Homo sapiens: one gene and its partners. The protein of the gene in region 1 interacts with the protein of each later gene in a biochemical or structural test. Each region holds a gene or a part of one and is shown in the gene's direction. Other genes may lie near its edges.

What was found.
Region 2: the proteins of PTPRD (region 1) and GPC4 form a complex in vitro, tested with the Homo sapiens proteins (one study listed by BioGRID).
Region 3: the proteins of PTPRD (region 1) and PPFIA1 form a complex in vitro, tested with the Homo sapiens proteins (one study listed by BioGRID).

Annotation. Positions count from the first base shown.
Region 1 is NC_000009.12:8,485,396-8,489,145, reverse strand, and holds part of PTPRD (receptor-type tyrosine-protein phosphatase delta isoform 1 precursor), read left to right. Parts: intron 1-2,796; coding exon 2,797-3,384; intron 3,385-3,750.
Region 2 is NC_000023.11:133,413,793-133,417,542, reverse strand, and holds the start of GPC4 (glypican-4 precursor), read left to right. Parts: upstream 1-2,053; 5' UTR 2,054-2,577; coding exon 2,578-2,737; intron 2,738-3,750. UniProt on the Homo sapiens protein: Cell surface proteoglycan that bears heparan sulfate. May be involved in the development of kidney tubules and of the central nervous system.
Region 3 is NC_000011.10:70,378,616-70,382,365, forward strand, and holds part of PPFIA1 (liprin-alpha-1), read left to right. Parts: intron 1-3,472; coding exon 3,473-3,531; 3' UTR 3,532-3,543; intron 3,544-3,750. UniProt on the Homo sapiens protein: May regulate the disassembly of focal adhesions. May localize receptor-like tyrosine phosphatases type 2A at specific sites on the plasma membrane, possibly regulating their interaction with the extracellular environment and their association with substrates.

The DNA of each region.
Region 1 (3,750 bases):
ATGTGTACCATAGCAATATTATAAAGTGAAACATCAGTTACTAAGAACATGCTCATAAATGACAAATATTAGAATGCAGTCTCTATTTGTGGTTTAGATCAAAAAATTATTTTTATTTATCCTAGCTTTACGTGCATCTCACGGAAACAGGATACACGGTGTATATATTATTATGCAGTTCGTTGGAACTAGAATTTCAAAAAATTTTAATAAATATGTTTAATCTGTTGCCTCTGGAGAATATTGAGAATTAATAGTTGTGTTTCCACCCACTCGTTTCAACGGAGTTTCATATATTGAAGGCTGTATTCTCTGTTGAAAGCTCTATTTCACCATGGATTTTTCTCAGCAGAGACTCAGGTGTTTAATCCTTGACACCATCACTGACATTTGGACAAATCATGTAAATGCTCTATACACATAAAGGGGAATTAAAGATGTCTGCCAATGTCCCTACATTAAAGTACTATTTTAAAATTAAGATAATTGTAAATATATTAAAAGCAAGTGGAATAGTTCACACAGTTTCCAACTTATGGATGGGTGGTGTTCTGAGAGTGTGTGTTGGTCGTTAAGATCTCTGGATGCATTTTTCCTGAGGAACACAATGAGTACACAATGATGTGGTTCCTGGGCCTACCTTCAACACACATGTTTTATATATACAACACAACACACATGTTTTATATATACAACACAACACACATGTTTTATATGTATAACACAGCACACATGTTGTTGAATAATTATTTATCTAAAAACTTTAGAAACTATTGTTTTCATACATTGTAGATTAGCTGAGTTATATCAGCATGTGATGAATCTTCCCAGCATGTGAAACAAAACTGTTGCTCCATTGGTTAAGGAAATAAATATCTTAATGATATTTCTTAGAGCAGAGCACATCTCCACTTGGGTTTCACTTTCTGAAATACAAAATGAAGAGGCTAATCAGTCCATCTCTGAGGTTAATATTCTATGTATTGTCTCATAATCTTTTTAGTGATTTTTTTACCTTCATCTATATCCCCATGGTATGATTTTTTATCACCTGTTTCCCATTACTGTAAGCTTTCCTCCTTTCCTACCATCTTTCTTTTTCTTCACATTCATAATTTTGAGGCACAGTTTCACTGTCACTCAGGCTGGACAGCAATGGTGTGATCATAGCTCACTGCAGCCTCAAACTCTTTGGCTCAAGCAATTCTCCCACCTCAGCCCCCTGAGTGGCTAAGACTACAGACATGTGACACCATGCCTTCCCCCCTCCCCCCGTAGAGATAAGGTCTTGCTATGTTGCCAAGCTGTTTGTTTGTTTGTTTGTTTGTTTGTTTTTGAGACGGAATTTGCTCTTGTTGCCCAGGCTGGAGTGCAGTGGCATGATCTCGGCTCACTGCAACCTCTGCCTCCCGGGTTCAAGTGATGCTCCTGCCTCAGCCTCCCGAGTAGCTGGGATTACAGGCATGCACCACCACACCTGGCTATTTTTGTGTTTTTTGTAGAGACAGGGTTTCTCCATGTTGGTCAGGCTGGTCTCAAACTCCCAACCTCAGGTGATCCACTGCTTCCCAAAGTGCTGGGATTACTGGTGTGAGCCACCACACCCAGCCGCTGGTTTTGAACTCTTGGGCTCAAGCAGTCCTCCCACCTCAGCTCCCAAAGTGCTGGGATTATAGACATGAGCCACCATACTTGGCCTTTCTTCTTCTTTCTGTTAACTTGGTTTAGTTTTTATTCTGATGATCATCCCTCAATGTCTTTCACTGTGGATTCCAATAATAATTGCTCTCCATTAAAAATAAATACAGACATAATAATACATTGAATGAGTAGATTAGACCTTTTCACATATCTAACTTAAAGGTAAATAAATTATGTATTCATTGGAAGCTAGCCTTTCACCATAAGAAGTTTAATATTCAGATTATTAATAATTATGGTTAATATTGATAGAATGCAGAACCTCATGCTAAGACTTTTACATGAATTTCCTCATTTATTATTCATAAGAACAATATAAAATAGCTCTTAATATAATTCCCATTTTACAGATGAAGAACTTGATGAATGATGTGGATAGTAAAGTTAGAAAGTGCAAATTAAATTCATAGTAAGTCAATACGATATTATTTTGTAGTTTGGTTTTTTTTTAAACTTTTAAGCAACATAGCAGCACAATTAAGCATTTAAGCAGTCGACTCCAGACAGAGGTGGGTTTGCCTTATAGATTTCTCACTTGTTACATGCTAGCCTTGGAAAGTTTTCTACCTCTCTGGGCCTCATTTTCTCATTATAGAAGATAGAGATAATAATAACTAATCCGAGAATGTAGTGAGGAGTCAGGAATGTAAACCAATTGTGAATACTATATGCAATGCACTTAGCGTGACGCCGGTACATTGCACATATTCAACGAATAAATAATCATTATAGTTATTCTTATTAGCCATATCTAATTGGCTGATCTTTGCTCAAATTAATTTATCTTTGATATGAACCTTTATGTGTGAAGGTTTAAAACGTGCAGGTGTCAAAAAAATCCCCTTAAGCTGTTGTTTCAATGATAATTTCTGTTTTGTGTCCATTATCAAATTCTAGTATCTCAGCCTACTTTAATAAAGTAAGACAAGGAGCATATTTCCACAAAGGTATGTAGGTCAAACATTGCCTGTTTTGTTTTGTTTTGGTAAGTAAGAAAATGGGAATACCAGTAGAGTGGAACTCCCTCATTTGGCAATGACTGAAATGTGAACGTTCAGATTGGTTGGTCTTACCACTCCATCCCATGTGCTCCAGTTCCAGGGAAACCTCGGCTTGTGATTAACCACACTCAGATGAATACTGCTCTTATTCAGTGGCACCCTCCGGTGGACACATTTGGACCTCTTCAGGGCTACCGTCTAAAATTTGGCCGCAAGGATATGGAGCCACTTACTACTCTTGAGTTCTCTGAAAAAGAAGATCACTTTACAGCTACAGACATCCACAAGGGAGCATCATACGTCTTCAGGCTCTCAGCCAGAAACAAAGTGGGCTTTGGGGAGGAGATGGTGAAGGAGATTTCCATTCCAGAAGAAGTACCAACTGGATTCCCTCAAAACCTTCACTCAGAAGGCACCACTTCAACCTCCGTCCAGTTATCTTGGCAACCACCTGTCCTGGCAGAGAGAAATGGCATTATCACCAAGTATACCCTTCTTTATAGGGATATCAACATCCCCCTTCTCCCGATGGAGCAGCTTATTGTTCCAGCTGACACCACTATGACACTCACTGGCTTAAAACCAGATACCACATACGATGTAAAAGTACGTGCTCATACGAGCAAAGGGCCCGGGCCATATAGTCCCAGTGTCCAGTTCAGGACACTGCCTGTGGATCAAGGTAGGATTTGTCTGCTTACGGCCTTCCTCCTTTAAAGGATTGTCAGTCTTTGGAAATCAGTATTTTGAAGCTATAATAACTGATCAGCCCATTCATATTAATAGGTTCAGCAAAAACAAAAAGGTAAAGTATGTAAAACTTACTACGTCTTGGATGCCTTAGATTTCAGTTATAGAATGTCAAGCAAGTCTGGCTGACAGCACCCCAATGTCCTCAGGTAAGGAAAACACAATAGAGTTGGCTGAATTGGAGAGAAAGGAAAGATCTCTGTGAGAATGGGGTATTAAAATGAATGCTCTAAACAGGTAGGAAAATCATACTTCTCTCTCTGATCAAAGTAGACAGCATCTAGCATAAGCCCCTATG
Region 2 (3,750 bases), on another chromosome or scaffold:
AGGAGGCTTTGAAGTGGGAGCCGCCTCTGAGCACGGCTTGGGGTTCCTGCCTCCCTTGGTAAAGTTCAGACTTGTCCAGATCTGTTTGTAGCCAGAGGTTACTGTTTCTGGTGGAAAAGGCTCAAGTTTGGGTTAATAATACATTATGAGGAAGAGCAGGAGTAAACCTGGGGAGGGCGGGGGCGGCGGGGGGGAGCGGCGGCAACGAATGAGTTCCTCCCAGCCTTGGTGTGAGAAGTAGCTTTCTGATTTGGCCTTCATGGTTCAGGAGTATCATTTTCTCTCTTACGGTCACTGGCTTCCATTTTATAATAATGCTCGTTGCATCTCAGAGCATATTCTCCTTGGTGAAGAACATCTTTAAGTAAATGTATCAATCAATGAAAATTAAAAGTGCTCAGCTAAGCCCTAGCAATGCCTTCAGGACTTGATGGTTACCAGTTTAAGGAAAGTCTTGAAAATGGCAGGAAATTCAATTGTAGTTGAGTTTGCACATTAAAAAAATTGCTCTCCTAGTTTCAGAGTTAAATATTCAGCCAGCCCACAGAAATTGGAAGTCACAGTTATAGACGGGTCACAGTCTGTTCATGTTGATAGTCTGTTAACAAAATGTAGAAGAGTCTGCAAGCAGGTATTCAAAATAACAGCTCCTCATAGCCAGCCATGTCAACGTGGTTTACAAACAACAGTGGAGAAAGTCTCAACAAACCCTCTGAGGGTGATAACTGTAATGATGGTTCGTATCTTTGCCCTATGTAATTTTATGGGAATTGAGAGTCTAGCCAAATAATAAGTTCCAGCCCTTTTTATCTGCCCAGTTCCCAGCACACTCCCGAGGTGTCTGAGGCACTTCTCAACCCAACCTCTTAAAGCAGATTGTAACAATAACAACGGTAATGACAAGTTCCCGAGCTGCACAGTTCCCTTCATTTAAGGAGCGCTGGGAGCTTCAAAAAAACACTCATTAATGGAATCTGACAAAGCTTGCAAGATGGGAAGTCTCTCCCATTTCCAGTTTTCTGGTGGAAAAGTGGGGACTGAGTCCCAGAGGGGTGTCAGTCTCTCTCAAGGGGCTTGAGGGGGTAGGGGGTTTGGGAGTCCTGGGCTACCATTATTCCATGAAATTCGAGAGTCAAGAGTCCCGGGTTCTGGACGCCCCCTTCCCCGGCGTGCTATTTACCAAGTCGCTTCCCATTTCTGGGCCCCAGTTCCCTTAATAGAAGGAAGGGTTGGGCCAAATGGTCTCCAAGATCTCTGCGGTCAACCCTGTCTTTGCCCCCTCACCTCGCGGTTGGGGGTTTCTCCCGCTTCAGAGTTCGGTTAGACTTGTAGTAGAACCGGGTCGGGGGTGGGAGTGGCGTCGAGGGGTTGGAGTGTTGCGGATGCGGGAAGGAGGATGCCTGATGGGGTCCTGGACAAACTGGTGTTTCACGAGTACCGTCCTATGGGAAGCAGGTCTGGGGAGACCAGGTGAGGCTCTAGGACGAGCTCGGAGCCCCAAATCCCCCTGCTGCCTGCAGCGAAACAATGCGAGTAATGTGCCTTCCCCGCCCAGCCCGGGAGCTGCGCGGATAGGAGCGTCCGCGGGTGCGGGATGGCAGCGGGGAGGCGGATATCGCGGCGGGAGGGCTCCGCGCGGCTTTTGCCCATAGGCGGCGGGTCAGGTGGCCGCGCGCAAGAAGGCCTGGGGCTCAGACATGGGCTTCGGGACAAGTCCCAGGCCGTCCCGTTCCCCAGAACCTGGGCCCTTCAGCCCGGAGTAGTTGGCCTTCCCTTTGTGGTTGGGGGGCGGTGGGCTGGCTCCCCGCCTCCGAGGAGGAGGGGAGGAAGGAGGAGCCGGGTGGGGCGTGTCACGCGAAGGAGCGCCGGGCGCCCGGTGCGGCCCCCTAGGAAGTGGATTTGGCCGCTCCGGATCCAACCCGGCTTCCAGGTTTTCTCCCGGCCCGGCCCAGCGTGCTCCCGCCTGTCTCCGGCCCCCCCACGACGCCCGCCCCCTCCCCCCGAGTGCCGCCCGCTTGGCCAAGTTTGCGGAGCGTCGCCGCGCACGCCGGCCAGTCAATCAGCGGCAGAGCTGAGAAGGGCACAGCCGCGCGGCGGAGGGCAGAGTCAGCCGAGCCGAGTCCAGCCGGACGAGCGGACCAGCGCAGGGCAGCCCAAGCAGCGCGCAGCGAACGCCCGCCGCCGCCCACACCCTCTGCGGTCCCCGCGGCGCCTGCCACCCTTCCCTCCTTCCCCGCGTCCCCGCCTCGCCGGCCAGTCAGCTTGCCGGGTTCGCTGCCCCGCGAAACCCCGAGGTCACCAGCCCGCGCCTCTGCTTCCCTGGGCCGCGCGCCGCCTCCACGCCCTCCTTCTCCCCTGGCCCGGCGCCTGGCACCGGGGACCGTTGCCTGACGCGAGGCCCAGCTCTACTTTTCGCCCCGCGTCTCCTCCGCCTGCTCGCCTCTTCCACCAACTCCAACTCCTTCTCCCTCCAGCTCCACTCGCTAGTCCCCGACTCCGCCAGCCCTCGGCCCGCTGCCGTAGCGCCGCTTCCCGTCCGGTCCCAAAGGTGGGAACGCGTCCGCCCCGGCCCGCACCATGGCACGGTTCGGCTTGCCCGCGCTTCTCTGCACCCTGGCAGTGCTCAGCGCCGCGCTGCTGGCTGCCGAGCTCAAGTCGAAAAGTTGCTCGGAAGTGCGACGTCTTTACGTGTCCAAAGGCTTCAACAAGAACGATGCCCCCCTCCACGAGATCAACGGTAGGTGGGCACACCCGGGAGGTGGGCGCAGAGACCGACACTTCGGGAAGGGAGGCTGCAACTCCCTTCCCCCGCCCCGCCGCCCCCTGCGCCGGACGCAGGTACACTAGAGGGAGAAATGGGCAGTCGAGAGGGCAGGAGCGAGCGAGCGAGAGAGCCAGGCAGCCCGGGCGCAGGACGTTCCCCGCGGGCGCAGCGCTCCCCCCTTCCCAGCACTGCGAGCGGAGGGGCGCCGCCGGGTTGCCCAGTGCGACTGTCGCGCTCCGCTCCCCGCCTCCGCTCCTCCTCTCCCCCCTGCATTATTCGCCGTCCCGGGAAGCCCCTGAGGACTGTGGCCCTCAAAGTGCGTGTCACCGGCTACTTCTCCTTTTCCGGGTTGAACTCCTTATAGGACGCCCCGCTTTGTTGTATGGGTGAGGAGAGGCCGGGTGGGGGTGGGGGTCGCCAGTGGGGTGTGGTGGAGGGAAACGTCCCGGAGCTTGCTAGATTCTGGGGGTCGCAAAACGTGGAACTTGAATTGATGTTTCATTGATGTTCTTTTAAAACTCTCTCCCCGCCTCTCTTGCACCGCTGACAAGGATTAGGAGTTTTAGTAGCCGCAACCGCTTCAGAAGTCGCCTTTAAAAAGCAAACGACTACCCCCACTCTCCACCCCTCCAAACCCTGACTTTTGGGAACTCTCCTACTTTCCGGAAGGTATCAGACCAGAGGAGTATTTTTCCCCTCTTTCTTTTTTCTTACCTCATTTTAAGGGTTAATTGCACTTTCAATTACAGACCTTTGAAAGGACTGATTACAGGAAACCTGAATCTCAGTTTGGAGATGGTTATGCAAATAGAGACGGCTTAGCCTGTGAGAAAGTTCACCGGATTTTGGCGCCGGTGGGGTGGGATGGGGGGTGTATGGGGGTATTTGTGAAAGCCCCTCTCGGAGCGCTGGGGAGGCAGCGTTCGGCGGGTGCCCTGCGTCCCTCCCAGCGAAGCTGGCGGCGGTGTCCGGCCGGGTCCCCTCCG
Region 3 (3,750 bases), on another chromosome or scaffold:
CACACAGTTTCCAGCTTGTGTGAGCTCTGCCTATGCTTTCTGCCCTCCCTGCTGCTGCTGTTCCGTGCAGTCACATGTCTACCCATTAGAGGGCAGGGAAGGGAGGAAGGTGAACCTCCAAGAAGTCCCCAGTGGAGCGAGGCAGCTATTGACTATACCAGCCAGAGAGAGAGCATCACTGCCATGATTTCACATGCAGTTTGGGATTTTCCCTTAGACGGCCACTTTGATTTGAGGTTAACAGTTGACCATGGCTTCCTTACAGGTCTCTCAACTCTGCCCTTGTACTCATCTAATGAAAGGCAGTGCACAGGTTGAAGAGCCAGGCTGCCTAGGTTTGACTCCAGCTCTGCCACTAGGAGGTGCATGACCCTGAACAAGTCATTTAACTACCCTGGCCTCGGTCTCCCCATCTGTAAAATGGTCGTCATGGTAGTGTCTTCCTCATAGAGTAGTTGCGATGATTGAATGCCTCATTCATTAAGCTGGTGAAGTTCTGAGCCCGTGTCAGTCGGGGCTGTTTGGCAGCCCCTGTGCTACACACAGGTCACTCATGCTCACTTCTGAGGCCAGTGAGCAGACTGGAGGAAAGGAAGTGGCATTAAAAACTGTGCTAATCCTTGAGGCCAGGAGTTTGAGACCAGCCTGACCAACATGGCGAAACCCCGTCTCTACAAAAAAAAAATACAAAAATTAGCCAGGTGTGGTGGCACATGCTTGTAATCCCAGCTACTTGGGAGGCTAAGGCACAAGAATCATTTGGACCTGGGAGGCAGAGGGTGCAGTGAGCCGAGATTGTGCCGCTGCACTCTAGCCTTGATGACAGACTGAGACTCTGTCTCAAAAAAAAAAAAAATTTTTTTTTAAGTGCTAATTAGGGGCCAAGCATGGTGGCTTATACCAGTAATCCTAGCACTTTGATAGGCTGAGAGGCAGGAGAATCACTTGAGCTGAAGTTTGAGACTAGCCTGGGCAACACAGTGAGACCCCATCTCTAAAAAAAAAAAAATAATAATTGAAAACTGTGCGAATGGGGTTTTTGCCAATTTTTTTTGTCATCAGTCCCTCCCGTACGTAGGTTCATAAATTTTGTTCTCTATCACCTGTATAAAAATAAAAAGAAAAGTACATTTAAATAAAACCTTAGTTAAGCTGGACGCTTTGGGTGAGAATAGCTTACTTTGTGGCATTTTTAGTAAAAAGCTGTATTATTTATTTATTGTTTGCCAGAATTTGATAATATACTCAAGGGGGAAAACCCAGTATATCTTTTAACTAGGAACTTTTTACAAATTAGCATTTTTCTTCCAAGAGTCATGCATATAATTCTTAGAAAGCAGAACTGTGACTTGGCCTTCAGCTCAAGCTCTGTCACCTGGAGTCCACGAGTGCTTTCTTGTTTTACTTGTGGCTTCAATTTCAGTTTTCCTTCTGATAAATCACATCTCCCTTGTTAAATGTTAACAGGAATATTAAGAATGAGAGTTTGGATGGATGAAAAGTAAACCTAGGCCGGGCGCGGTGGCTCACGCCTGTAATCCCAGCACTTTGGGAGGCTGAGGTGGGTGGATCAGCTGAGGTCAGGAGTTCGAGACCAGCCTGGCCAACGTGGTGAGACCAGCCTGGCCAACGTGGTGAAACCCTGTCTCTAGTAAAAATACAAAAAAATCGGCCGGGCTCGGTGGCTCACGCCTGTAATCCCAGCACTTTGGGAGGCCAAGGCGGGAGGATCACGAGGTCAGGAGATCAAGACCATCCTGGCTAACACGGTGAAACTCCATCTCTACTAAAAATACAAAAAAAAAAAAAAAATTAGCTGGGCACGGTGGCAGGCGCCTGTAGTACCAGCTACTCGGGAGGCTGGGGCAGGAGAATGGCATGAACCCAGGAGGCGGAGCTTGTGGTGAGCCAAGATCACACCACTGCACTCCAGCCTGGGCGACAGAGCAGGACTGTCTCAAAAGAAAAAATTTGCCAGGCATGGTGACACATGCCAATAATCCCAGCTACTTAGGAGGCTGAGGCAGGAGAATGGCTTGAACCTGGGAGGCAGAGGTTGCAGTGAGCCGAAATCATGCCACTGTACTCCAGCCTGGGCGACAAGAGCAAAACTCTGTCTCAAAAAAAAAAAAAAAGTAAACCTAAAAGGTATAGGGAATTTATTATAAAGAAGACTTTTTACCCTTACATTAAATAACTCAGGCACAAGCCTGCTAAAGGGATTATTATTATTATTGAGACAGGGTCTCACTCTGTTGCCCAGGTTGGAGTGCAGTGGCTCAGTCTCGGCTTACTGCAACCTCAGCCTCCCAAGTAGCTGGGACCACAGGTGTGGTCCCATGCCTTGCTAATTTTTTGAATTTTTTGTAGAGATGGGCTCTCACCATGTTGCCCAGGCTGGTCTTAACTCTTGGGCTCAAGCAATCCTCCTGCCTTGACCTCCCAAATTGCTGGAATTACAGACGCGAGCCACCGTGCCCAGCAAAGTTGACTATTTTAATGGCTTTTTAATTAAGGGAATGTGGGGTAAACTCCAGCAGGTCTCCCAGGTTCTTAAGAGTCAGAGGGTTTGTGAAGATCATCTGTCCTCACCAACAGTCCCAACTGTCTTAATGTCTTTGCTGGAACCATGCAGGATGTTGATTAAGTGTTCCTGGTATACCTGTGGGAAAACAAAAAACATAACCGGGAGCAGCCAGTACCTGCTTCCGATTTGCAAAAACTTAAAATCCCAGTTGTTAATGGAAATCGGGCTTACTTATGGCCACACTGTGTTTCTTGAACAAGAACCAAAATCTGTGGTCTCTATGATTAATATTTCTGGTAGGAACTGAGACTGGGCTTCAGTTTTTAGATCAGCTTTCACCCCACTCCCTGGCCAACGCCCCACCCCTGCAGCCAGATCTCTGCACCTGCTCTGCTCCTCCCCAGGAGAAAAGGGCACCGGCTTCCCAGACACCCAGCTAGTGCTGGGTAGCAAGGTTCTCTCCCTCCTCTTAGACTGGTCTTGTACCCGACGTCGTTGGCCTCTGCGCTCAGTGGGGCTGGGCAGCATCAGCAGTGCCGCTTGGTGTTTCCTTCATACCAGTGTTAGAGATGGAGCACTTAGGGCAGGGAGAAAGCCCCATTGGTCTATGAATGCAGAGTTTAGTAAGAGATAAAGGGATCACTCTAAGTAGGGGTCATTTATGCAGATGTACATTTTGAAATTGTTACTGTACCATTTGGTGCTTGGTATTTCGGAGTAGTGTTCCAGAGTCTCCCGGGGCTCTTTGGGAGCTGGGGAGAGCCACCACTGGGTGACACTTGGATCTCTCTGGCTCCATCCCGCCCACTCAGGCAGCTCCCCTCAGGTCCCTCCGTAGGCACTGCTGTAGGTGTGAAGATGTGTGTCTACTTGTGCCCTCATGTGATGTTCTAAGACTAACTGCACGCTGTGTTTGCACGCTTCCTCTCGTGGCTGTTGAAACAGGCAATGTATCAGGAACACAGAGGTTGGATTCTGCTACAGTCAGGACTTACTCCTGCTAAAGTCTCCTGTTGGTGAGTAGAGAGCACCACAACCCCTAGAGATGGCTCAGAGGCACAGCAGGAGTCATCGGAGCTGCAGTGCCAGACTAGGGGTGTGGACCATGAAAGCCAGTGCAGTTTTTGGGGAATTTAAAATATATATAGACACAAGCTCTCCGTACCCATTAAGATCATTTTGTTGTTACAATTGATCATAAAGAGGTTAGTGTGTCCTCTTTT